Homo sapiens: one gene and its partners. The protein of the gene in region 1 interacts with the protein of each later gene in a pairwise test. Each region holds a gene or a part of one and is shown on either strand. Other genes may lie near its edges. The genes, in order: RAB11FIP4, PKNOX1 and RAB11FIP2.

Region 1 (3,653 bases):
CTTTTAACAATCCTGGCTTGTGGAAGCATTCGGGCCTGTTGTCTGTCAGTAATTTCTGGAATCTAAGCCTGTTTCTTGGCCCTTATTCCCATTTAATTTCGTCTTGTTCATTTCATCACATTGTATCTGTCAAGAAAGAGAATCTAGCATCCTACCTCTATCACTCTCAGCTGTGCTGCTGCCTGCGGGCTGGAGAAGCAGTGCTTGGTGTGTCTGAATCCACAAGGCTGGTTAAACATTGCAGGGCAGGACCATGGACAGGGCCCCGAGGCACTTGTAGGGGTGGTTTTCGGCTTATGCTGTATTGACCGAGACCCGTGGAAATATATTTTGCATCTCTACTCACTACCCATCTTATCCCCTGATGCATTAAAAAATCGGAGTGTTGTTTTCCAGCGGTGGGGTGGCGGGGGGCGGGGGGGGGGGGCTCCCTTACGAAATGCAGTGTACTCTGACTGTTTCTATTTTATTTGTTTTAAAATCAGGCAGTGACATTGATTTCCCAGCCACTTGTGCTCTGGGATGGATAATGATCATTCATTAGATATGTAGTTCAGTGAACTTAGAGCTGATTGTCCACAGTTTACCACCTACCCCCAGAATACCAGGGATACCAGGATCAAATGCTTTGCAAAAACCAAAATATACTAGGTCATAAAGTATGAAATAAATATCCATGAGGCCATAATGAAATATATATATGTATAAATTATTGAACAGATGATAATAAATAAATAGGAAAATCTCTCGTATAGAAGAAATCTGAATAACGTATGTTGATAATTGCCCCATTGAGGAAGTGAAGCATAACGTCCCACCGTGTAAGCATGAGATGTGCGTAGTGGCTTCCTTATAAAGGGTAGAGTTTGGAAAGTGGGGGGAACAGCAACTGTATAGTGGAGAAACCCAACAAACACTGTCTCAGAAGGTGATCAAGGACAACATCGATAGTGACAGATTGTGATGATGGCATACACCCTTGGTGTGATGTGGTGAGAATAGAACTTTTCCTCTGTGGTCTTCCTCCCAAACCAGTAATCCCAGTCTAGTCCTGAGAAAAATGCCAGACAAATCCCATCCGAGAGGCATTCTACAAAATGCCTGATTAGGACCTCTCAAAATTGTCAAGGTCATCCAAAACAAGGAAATTTTGAGACACTGTCAGAGCCAAGTGGAGACTAAGGAGGCAGCTGACTAAATGCAGTGTGGTGTCCTGGATGGGACCCTAGAATCAAGAAGAGGACATTAGGTAAAAACTAAGGAAGTCAGGATCAAGTATGAATGTTACTTAATAATGTTATTTATGGATTAGGTTAGTCCCTGATAGTTCCCTACTTTGTTGACCTAGGTATCACAGCAGAAAAGAGGAGACAATGGGCCGGGCGTGGTGGCTCATGCCGGTAATCCTAACACTTTGGGAGGCTGAGGTGGGAGGATCACTGGAGCTCAGGAGTTCCACACCAGCCTGGGTAACATGGTGAGACCCCCCATCTCTACAAAAAATACAAAAATTAGCCCGGTGTAGTGGCGTGCACCTGTAATCCCAGCTAGTTGGGAGACTGAGGCAGGAGAATCGCTTCAACCTGGGAGGCGGAGGTTGCAGTGAGCTGAGATTACATCGCTGCACTCTAGCCTGGGTGACAGAGTGAGACCCTGCCACAAAAAAAAAAAAAAGAAAAGAAAAGAAAAGAAAAGAAAGAAATGCAGATTTTTGAGGGATGGGGGCACACCACTGCCCTGATCCTGAAAGTCTACAATGCCAGGGAGCAGGACTCTGATAAGTATGTAACATGATGGCTCAACATCCTGACCCTGTGTTGCCTTCTGATATATTGCATTGTCTCCCTAACCTCTTTAGGCCTCTATTTACTCATCCATCAAATGGGGCTGATCAGAGTCCCCATTCTATAGGGTTATTGTGGGGTTTGAGTGAGTTAATACATACAAAGGGCTTAGTCCAGTATCTGCACAGAGTAGGCATAATATCAGAATTGCTGGTGCTCTCCTTGTCATTATTATTATTTTCTAAACACTTGCAAGCATTTTTGAGAGGCTGTTCTAGGCTGGAGATTTGCTAGGAATTGAGGTCAAGATCTGGCACCGGCCTCTGTGTGCTCAACTCACCCTCCTTAACCAGCTGTGGTGTTCCTGCCCCTCTTACGTCCCCTCGGCAGTCAGAATGGTAGACATTGAAAGCAGCCAGAGATGTCCTGGACCACACTTCCCTGTGACATGGTCCTCTTCCCTTTCCAGTTTGAAGACCGTCCTTCTTGCTAGAAAAATAGAAATAAGAATCACCAAGTAGGCCTCTCCCATGCATTAACACAGCACCATCTCCTCTGGACAGTGGGCCTGTCCTGCCTGCTTGGAAATGAAATGATGGTCCCCACTGGGCTCCCTGAGTCCTCAGGTCCCCTCTGAGCTAATGCCTGCTATGGGGGAATTGCTAGTGCCACTTGGGTTAAGCCTGGGTCTTTGAAATGGCAAAGGGGTTGGGGTGCTAGGATGGGCTGAGACCGGCCAGGAGCCAGCCCTGGGGCTGGGATCGATGTCTTTTGAGATACGTGGCTTCCAGGAACAGGAGCACCTGGAACTAAAGCTCCTCTGCTCAGGAGTAGCAATTGGATAACAGGGAAGAAACAACTGTATCCCCACAGCTGTGGCTGGAGGAAGGGGTGAAGGGGAAGGTAGGGCCAGATCAGTGGTTCCCTGTAGGCAGTGAGACCTAGGCAGCCAAGAGTGGATGTGTATGAGAGAACAGGGGATGGGGAGCAGGATTGGAGGCAGGAGGCCTCCTCGGGACTGTGGCACATGGTAAGAGAGGAAGAGCATCCTAACTTGGGCAGTGGCGGGGGGTGCAGAATTGACAGGGGCCTGGAAGGCCGGCAAAGTCCCAACGAGCTACTCCCAAAAGGTGATAGTTAAAGGTGCTCTTTTGAGACCAGGCAACCTCTATGTGCCCCACCCTAATGAGGCTACCATGCAGAGTGACAAGGCTGGCACATCAGAAGGAAGGCCCAGGTGCCCTGAGCCTGGCAGAAAAGGTGGGAGTGCCTGGGACCTGAGGTGGAAGCAGGACAAGAGTGAGCCCAGAGAGATGTTCTCTTTCCTATGCTTCTGGGAAACTGTGCTCCTGAGGTTGGAGGTCATCATGGAAGTGGGGCCAGGGCTGGGGATCCCTTGGGGCCTGGGGATGGGCATGTGGCACCACACTCTGCATTGAGGCGGGAGGACGAGTCCTAGCTGGGGCACCCTCTGGCCTCTTGTGCCCACCAGTTTGGCTGTGCTGGGAGGAGGCCAGATGCAGAAAGTCTGCTGGGACTCATCCATCTTATCAGACACGCCCCTGCCTTTTTTTTTTTTTTTAATTGAAACAGGCTCTCGCTTTGTAGCTCAGGCTGGAGTTCAGGGGTGCATCATGGCTCACTGCAGCCTCGAGCTCTTGGGCTCAAACCGTCCTCCTGCCCCAGCCTCCCAAGTAGCTGGCACTGCAAGTATATGCCACCATGCTCAGCTAATTTTTTGTCAGACACTTTTTTTTTTTGAGACGGAGTCTCACTCTGTCACCCAGGCTGGAGTGCAGTGGCTCGTTGCAACCTCCAACTCCGGGGTTCAAGCGATTCTCTCACCTCAGCCTCCCGAGTAGCTGGGAT
Region 2 (3,653 bases), on another chromosome or scaffold:
TTGCAGTGAGCCGAGATCACACCACTACACTCCAGCCTGGGCAACAGAGTGAGACTTCGTCTCAGAAAAACAAAAGTAATGCTTTCTCAATGTTGGGTAGAAAGGATTTTCAACCCAGAATTCTACAAGTAAACAGACTGCATATCAAATATGAGATTAAAATAAACTCATTTTTAGGTTTGCAAAGTCTCAAAAAAATGTGTGTTTTTTTTTTGTTTATTTTATTTTATTTGAGATGGAGTTTTGCTCTTGTTGCCCAGGCTGGAGTGCTGTGGCACGATCTCGGCTCACTGCAACCTCCACCTCCCAGGTCAAGCAATTCTCCTGCCTCAGCCTCCCGAGCAGCTGGGATTATAGACATGCACCCGACATCCAGCTAATTTTTGCATCTTTAGTAGAGACGGGGTTCCACTATGTTGGACAGGCTCGCCTCAAACTCCTAACCTCAAGAGATCCACCCATCTCGGCCTCCCAAAGTGCTGGGATCACAGGTGTGAGCCACTGCACCCGGCCAGAATCAATGTTTTTTTTTTTTTTTTGAGATGGAGTCTCACTCTGTCGCTCAGGCTGGAGTGCAGTGGCACGATCTCAGCTCACTGCAACCTCTGCTTCCCGGGTTCAAGCGATTCTCCTGCCTCAGCCTCCCGAGTAGCTGGGATTACAGGCGTGCACCACTGCACCCAGCTAATTTTTGTATTTTTAAGGACAGGGTTTCACCATACTGGCCAGGCTAGTCTTGAACTCCTGACCTCGTGATCTGTCCACCTTGGCCTCCCAAAGTACTGGGATTACAGACGTCACCGTGCCCGGCCCAGAATCAATGTTCTTAAAGTAAGAACTGATAACACACACCAAAGACGGGCAAGGCTCAGCAGCCGCAGAGATAGCGCCACTGCACTCCAGCCTGGGTGACAGAGAGGCCTGAAAGCCCTGGCCCAATGACATTGTCATGATGGAGGTGTGGGCCAGGCTCACTGGTCTGAAAAGCTTGCCTGGCAGTTCTGCCGTGCCCTTTGTGGGGACCCTGGGGAGTGTGTGCCTACAAGACCTCTGCCCCTGGTGCACGTGCACATGATCCAACGTTAGCACTGGATAACTCTGTGTGTGTGTGTGTGTGTGTGTGTGTGTGTGTGTGTGTGTGTGTGTGTGGGTGGCAGGGGGTGGTTATGAGTGACTTTTTTCCTGTTCTTTCAGAATTTTCTGAACTTTGCAAATTCTCTACAATGCGAGAGATAAGAGTACAAAGAAACAAAACACTGACATTCAGAGAAACCAGAAATTGCTACACAAGACAAAGCTCTTCAGGCAGAGGGAAGGGCTCATGCTTGTTCTACCTGTGCCCCTATGTGGGCAGCACTCGCCCCCAAAGCCTTCCATAAAATGGCGCACGCACCTGGGAGTTCTGGATCCTAATTGTCCCAGGCGACAATGTCTGTGTGACCACTTGGCCTTGGGGAGTGACGACCGTGACAGGCTGATACACTGTGCCACCTCGAAAGGGAGAATAAAAATATGAGGCTGCTTTTAAGTCTCAATGATTTAAACCATTCTTCTTTTTTTTTTTTTTTTTTTTTTTGTAGAGACAGGGACATTGCTTTGTTGCCCAGGCTGGTCTCTAACTCCTGGCTTCAACTGATCCTCCTGCCTTGGCCTCCCAAAGTGCTGGAATTACAGATGTGAGGCACTGCGACCAGCCCTCTTCTTGATATACTTACAAAAGGAATAAAATCCCTGGTTTGATGAGCTTTTTAATCATTTCAAAAGATCAACAATCCTTTGCCAGTTGACTTGTCACTATAAAGTATCAAAACAAACTCCCTGGGTGGGCTACTCGGGCACCTGCAGCAGTGGGTGGGCAGGTGGGTGGGCGCTATGTGCCTGGCAGCCCACACAGCCCGGCTCACACACCACCAACTGACCTGGGGTGTGAGGGCTCCCTTCCTTTTGCTAGCCTCTGCTTTCTACTATTTCCTAAAATTAGCACATGTTAAGGATTTGGCCAAGGGTACTAAATAATAACTATTTTAATTCTAGTTATATTTTTGGATCAATGGTGCTTTTTTTTTTCCCACTGAGGTTTCCCTTTGTGCTATTATGTGAGGTCTTTGGTGTAAATTTCTACCCCTCCCTCTTTGCCGTGTCCCATTTCCATGATGCTTTGTGTTTTCAATGTTCTCTACGCATCAGGGAACTCTGGAATCTGTCCCTTTCCTGTAACGGTTTTGTTCTACAAGTAATACCAATGCTAAGACTGCATTTTTATTTGTCATCAATTAATGATAAAACTTAAGATTTTCACGGTGCTATTAAAAGCACAACAAAAAGCTATGTTATTTGAAAATGACAACTGGTTTTTGGTGTATATTTTCAATTCCTACATAAAACCTTTTTTCTTTCCAATATATTTTTGGTAGAGAAACAAAGAAACACAATCTGCATAAAATATTTGTTATTGAGTATTAACAAGAAAGAGGCATTCAGAGACCTCTAGCTTCTAACATTGCTATATTAGAAAATGGCATGAACTTGAAATTATATTTATACTGTCATTCTAACACACAGGACCATTTTCTGCAAAAACTCATGGAGAGTGTGTCCATTTTTCTGTCATCGTACCTGCCACCGTCGCCATGGCTACGTTTCCCTGCTGCAGCGCGGACGCCGGCACCACAATTCCCTGAGGGCTGATGGTGCCTGTGATGGCACTTTGAATCTGCTGCAAGTCAGAACACACATGTTGAAGGAATTACTAGAAAACGGAAAACCCATGTTTAAAACTTTAACATAAGTAGCATAATGACACCATTAAAAAAGGAAAGAGAAGCTTGAGGGAAAGAACATCCTCAGATGACGCGGCTTCAGAATGCACGCAGCACACACGGAAAGCAAGAGATGTTCAACTGTGTATTAAACACAACAAGCCAGCCTGCAACGTCAGCCTGCACTGTGGCTTCCAAAAGATTATCTTCATCTCACTGCCATATTCCACGTGCCTTACAGCCCAGGAGTATATCGAGGAAGACCCTGCTTTCTGATCACACATCTTTTTCATTAGACTTGGCTTGGTGGACTCTTGAGTTTTCCATGAACCAAGCTCTCCCTGACCGATAAGAGCATTCAAGAGATTATAGCACAGGCCTGGGAGGCACTAGAAGTGACCAGGGCTGAGGTATTCCAAGCTGTGCTGGGGAGTCAGCCCCTGGCACCCACCTTGACTCTTGACCCCGGCACGGACTAAGTGTGATCTTGGCTTTCCCCAGTGTTCTTGCTTGTACAGTGCTTGGAACTGTGCCCGGCCTACAGCGAGCCCCATGCAAATGTTTCTACATGCCCCATGGAGGACTCTATGCATCTGGGGTTAGATCCACATGGGCCACTTTATCCACTGACTGTGACGCCTGGGTGGGCAGCTGGCAGGGGAGAGGAGCCTCCAGTGCCGGGCCTGGCACACTCATGTGCCCTGACATGTGAGCAGTTACATAGCATAAGGGGACGCCACCCCAAGGCGGTGATTCTGTGGGCCATCATCGAGCGGAATGTGTAAGCTTAGTGGCTACGCTTAAAGCCTGCCACATTAATTAGGCTGTAATAAAAGTTAAGCTAGTCAAATCAATCATCCCAGCTTCCACCTTAAGATCTTAGAAAAAGAGGAA
Region 3 (3,653 bases), on another chromosome or scaffold:
TTCACAATAAAGGAGAATATGTAATGAAACCTGATAGTGTAGTCTCTTTCAGTAACAAGTTTTTCCTTCCTTCCTTCTTTCTTTCTCTCTCTTTGTCCAATTATCAATACAATACAATTGGCTTTATTAACTGTTAGAGAATTTGCCAGCTTTCCTGGATGGTTCATACGGCACTCTGAGAATACTGGGCGTTTCTTCCATTACCCTTACAAGGAGGTTGTCGATGTAGTCCTCGAGTTCCCGGATGTGGGTGTCTTTCCTCCTAAGGAGTTCTTTGTGTTTCACCAGCTCCTGTAGAACCTCTTCATAGGTCAGACTACGATACCCTGCAGTGGCATCAAAGGGGTTGCTGTCCTAGAACAGGATAAAGACTGTCACTTTCATAGATATAACATCTGGGACAAACATTAAGAATTACCTGGAACTTCGACTTTTTGTTTTTCAAACCCTGATGAAGTTTTTCGCTAGCCTTGCTTAAAGTGAATGTGACAGTTCACAAATTGGCTAGCCAGTCCTGAGGCAAGAACTAGGGCAGATGCACCAAAGTTTTGACTATAACTCTAAATCCTAAAACCCTTTCTAACATTGTGGGCAATTTCCTAATATCTGAGACTGGTTATATCATGTAAGATTACATTAAGAGATGAAATATTCTATAATAAATACAACTAAAATAGATGAAAACTAAAGATTTCTAAAAGTTAACTCAGAGGAACTGTAAGAAGTAACTGAAAACTATACACTTGGACTTGTGTCCTTATGAAACTGCTTCCACTGAACTGTGATTTAATGTTATATGTTTGGCTTCTTAGTGAAGATGGTTACAGCAAAAATCTTTTCTAATTTGCTATGAAAATGGAAGCACTCGGAATTAAATCAAAGATTATCCTTACAGGAAGCCCCATGTGAGTAACTTCTGTTTTAATTTAGAAACAGGCAGAACTTTTCCTCCCCTGAGTAACTGGTCTATTTCTTTCTCCTATAATAATATCTAATTTATCTTCTTTCCCTTTTTGACCCTGGTTATCAGGAAACTCAAGAGTTCAACCATATTAATACTACGGTTAGTATATTTGCATTCTCTCCCATTTCATCTATTTACTTAACTTTATTCTATTGACAAAAATTCTTTTTAGGCAAAAGCATAAATATAACCAAAAATCTTTTTTAAAAGACACTTATTAATTCACTGTTATTACAAAGCATTCTAATATTAATGTTATATCAAAAGTGAAAGAAAAATATTTCTCAGGAATTTAATCAAGGCCCTGTAACATAATCTTTTATTTATAGTGTATAGCATTAAGAGTTTTCATTCTGTAAAACATAATGCCCAATTACAACTAAGCAATTTTTTATTCTTTTTAAATCATAGTTCTCTCATTAAGCCCAACAATTTAAAATAATTTTCATCACTATCTTTTAAAACATTTCCATTTGGCTTTAAGGAAACTTAACTAAAATATTGAGGAAATTGGTTTTCTTGCTGTTAAGGAATACTATCTAATCTATTCAGTGGAGGATGGGGAATGGGGACTGGTGAATGCAGAATGACCCCCACCCCCAATAAGAATTAAACTGTCCTTCCCTGTTTTCAGGATCTACTTTAATAGTGCTATGTATTTGGGGGTGTTCATGAGAAAAGCCAAAGTTTAACTTTTCACTGGCCCTCACCACTTCCCCAGCCTCTCAGCCCAAGGAACCAGGACTTTACCAGACCAGAGAAAGAGAAGCTAGAGTACAGATACCAATTTGATGCTTGGGTCATTGAAGCACACCCACTTCTCCAGGATAAGTGAAAACATTCAGGACTGAAAAACTTTTCCAATTTCATAGAATCTCTCAGGCTTTGTGGAGAAGATACAGCTTGCGCTAGGCCTTCAAGAGTTTGCAGGCAGAAATGCGTAATGGGGCATTTCAAGCAGTGAACTCTGCTTGTTCAAAGAAGGAAACAAGGCTCAAGGCATAGTGGCCAACAGGTAATCCAATAACAGGTACTCTGTAGAGCATGGCTGGAAAATACTGTACAGGACAGCGAGCAGACAGGGGCCGAAATGGAAGGTTTGAAATAGACCACCAAGAATGCTGAATGGTAGTATAAAGAATTTTTAGACTTTTGCTATGGAAAATAGGAAGCCACTGAAGGTTTCTAAACAGAGAAAGGATATGATTAAAGCTATGTTCCAGGAAAAGTAAAATGGCAACAGTGGAATCATTTGGAGGGGCTAAGATTAGGTATAGGGCTATTGAAATATGAAAGACCAGAGTTAGCAAGAATGAATAGAGAGGATATTAAAGGGAAGTGAGTTTAAATTCTATAAAATATGTCTAAAACAACTTAGTTTATTTTAGCATTAGAAACTGGAAACAGATGTAAGTTTCAGTCATATTTCCTTCATCCTTAAAAACATTTCAAATATTGTTCTAAAACCATTAAAGGACAATTCTAGAGATAAGTGTTGTTTTACTTCTCCCTCCTCTCTCAGATCAATTAATCTTTTATAAGTCTACACACATGCGCACACACACACACACACTCTCATGCACGTAGTTACTAGTTTAATTGGTCATAATATATAGTTTGGAGATACATAAGTATTAATTACATTCTTATAAAAGATTATGTTAAGCCGTTTTCTACAGTAAAGAGAAGACATAGTGTAGAGTTCGGTATACTTTTGAAATTTCTTAAAAATAAGCTAAAGTGTCTTACTTCAACTCGAGTAATTCTGCATAAATTTGAGAGAGAAAGCAACTTGGGTCTCACTTTCCTTATCTGATAGATGAGATGTTCTCCATGGTCCCTTTCAACTCTAAAATTGTCTGGTATACCAAGTGATTTTTCTAAACCCCACTTTAAAAACTAATAAACTCTAACTAATGTGATTTCACTTTTCTAATAAAACATTTACTGAGAAATTCATGTTCTTGTGAGAATTGCAGGGATTAATGAAAGGAAGCTAAATGGGATTCATTACTGATTAGTTGACTGCTTTATGCTTTTTCTTTATTTAACATAATAAAAGCATCTATTCAAGTCTCTCTAATCTTAATAAAATTACACATATATAAACTGATTTCTCCAAACTAATTAAGCTATGAAATAGTTAAAATAAAAGTGCACTGTTATATTTAACACTATTACCAGTTAATGTAGTTAAAAATTTTTTGTAACATTTCTCTAAAGACACTGAAGATGAAAAACGTTTCAAAAATTTGTGTTTTGATATAAATTAAAGCCATGATATAAATTAATAGTTTAATCTTTCAAAATAATCAATTATTATTTCAGACTACTGGTCATACTTTATAGCCATACTCTAGAATACACAGATATGTTATTTGGATTATTTTTTTTTTCCTTACAACAATCTAACACTAATGTGTAGACAGATTTCCTGGAAATACATTTCTGGCCTTTTCAATAAATTTTCCGTTTGTCCTTTTATGTGAAAATTTCACCTCAAATTTTAGCATCAAGTTTCTAGGCAGGAAAACATCTTAGAAACATATGTACTATGAATTATATTCTGGAAAAGAATATAAAATAATTAAAAACAGTTTCATGCTGAGTTCCAGATTTTATCTGATATTTGAAAACAATGTAAACCTTCTAATTTTAGGCATGAGATTCTTAAATTGACTGATATACT

The links.
Region 2: the proteins of RAB11FIP4 (region 1) and PKNOX1 interact in a two-hybrid assay, tested with the Homo sapiens proteins (one large-scale study listed by BioGRID and IntAct).
Region 3: the proteins of RAB11FIP4 (region 1) and RAB11FIP2 interact in a two-hybrid assay, tested with the Homo sapiens proteins (one study listed by BioGRID).

What each region holds. Positions count from the first base shown.
Region 1 is NC_000017.11:31,394,524-31,398,176, forward strand, and holds part of RAB11FIP4 (rab11 family-interacting protein 4), read left to right. Parts: intron 1-3,653. UniProt on the Homo sapiens protein: Acts as a regulator of endocytic traffic by participating in membrane delivery. Required for the abscission step in cytokinesis, possibly by acting as an 'address tag' delivering recycling endosome membranes to the cleavage furrow during late cytokinesis.
Region 2 is NC_000021.9:43,015,971-43,019,623, reverse strand, and holds part of PKNOX1 (homeobox protein PKNOX1), read right to left. Parts: intron 2,717-3,653; coding exon 2,617-2,716; intron 1,492-2,616; coding exon 1,394-1,491; intron 1-1,393. UniProt on the Homo sapiens protein: Activates transcription in the presence of PBX1A and HOXA1.
Region 3 is NC_000010.11:118,008,872-118,012,524, forward strand, and holds part of RAB11FIP2 (rab11 family-interacting protein 2), read right to left. Parts: intron 355-3,653; coding exon 127-354; 3' UTR 1-126. UniProt on the Homo sapiens protein: A Rab11 effector binding preferentially phosphatidylinositol 3,4,5-trisphosphate (PtdInsP3) and phosphatidic acid (PA) and acting in the regulation of the transport of vesicles from the endosomal recycling compartment (ERC) to the plasma membrane.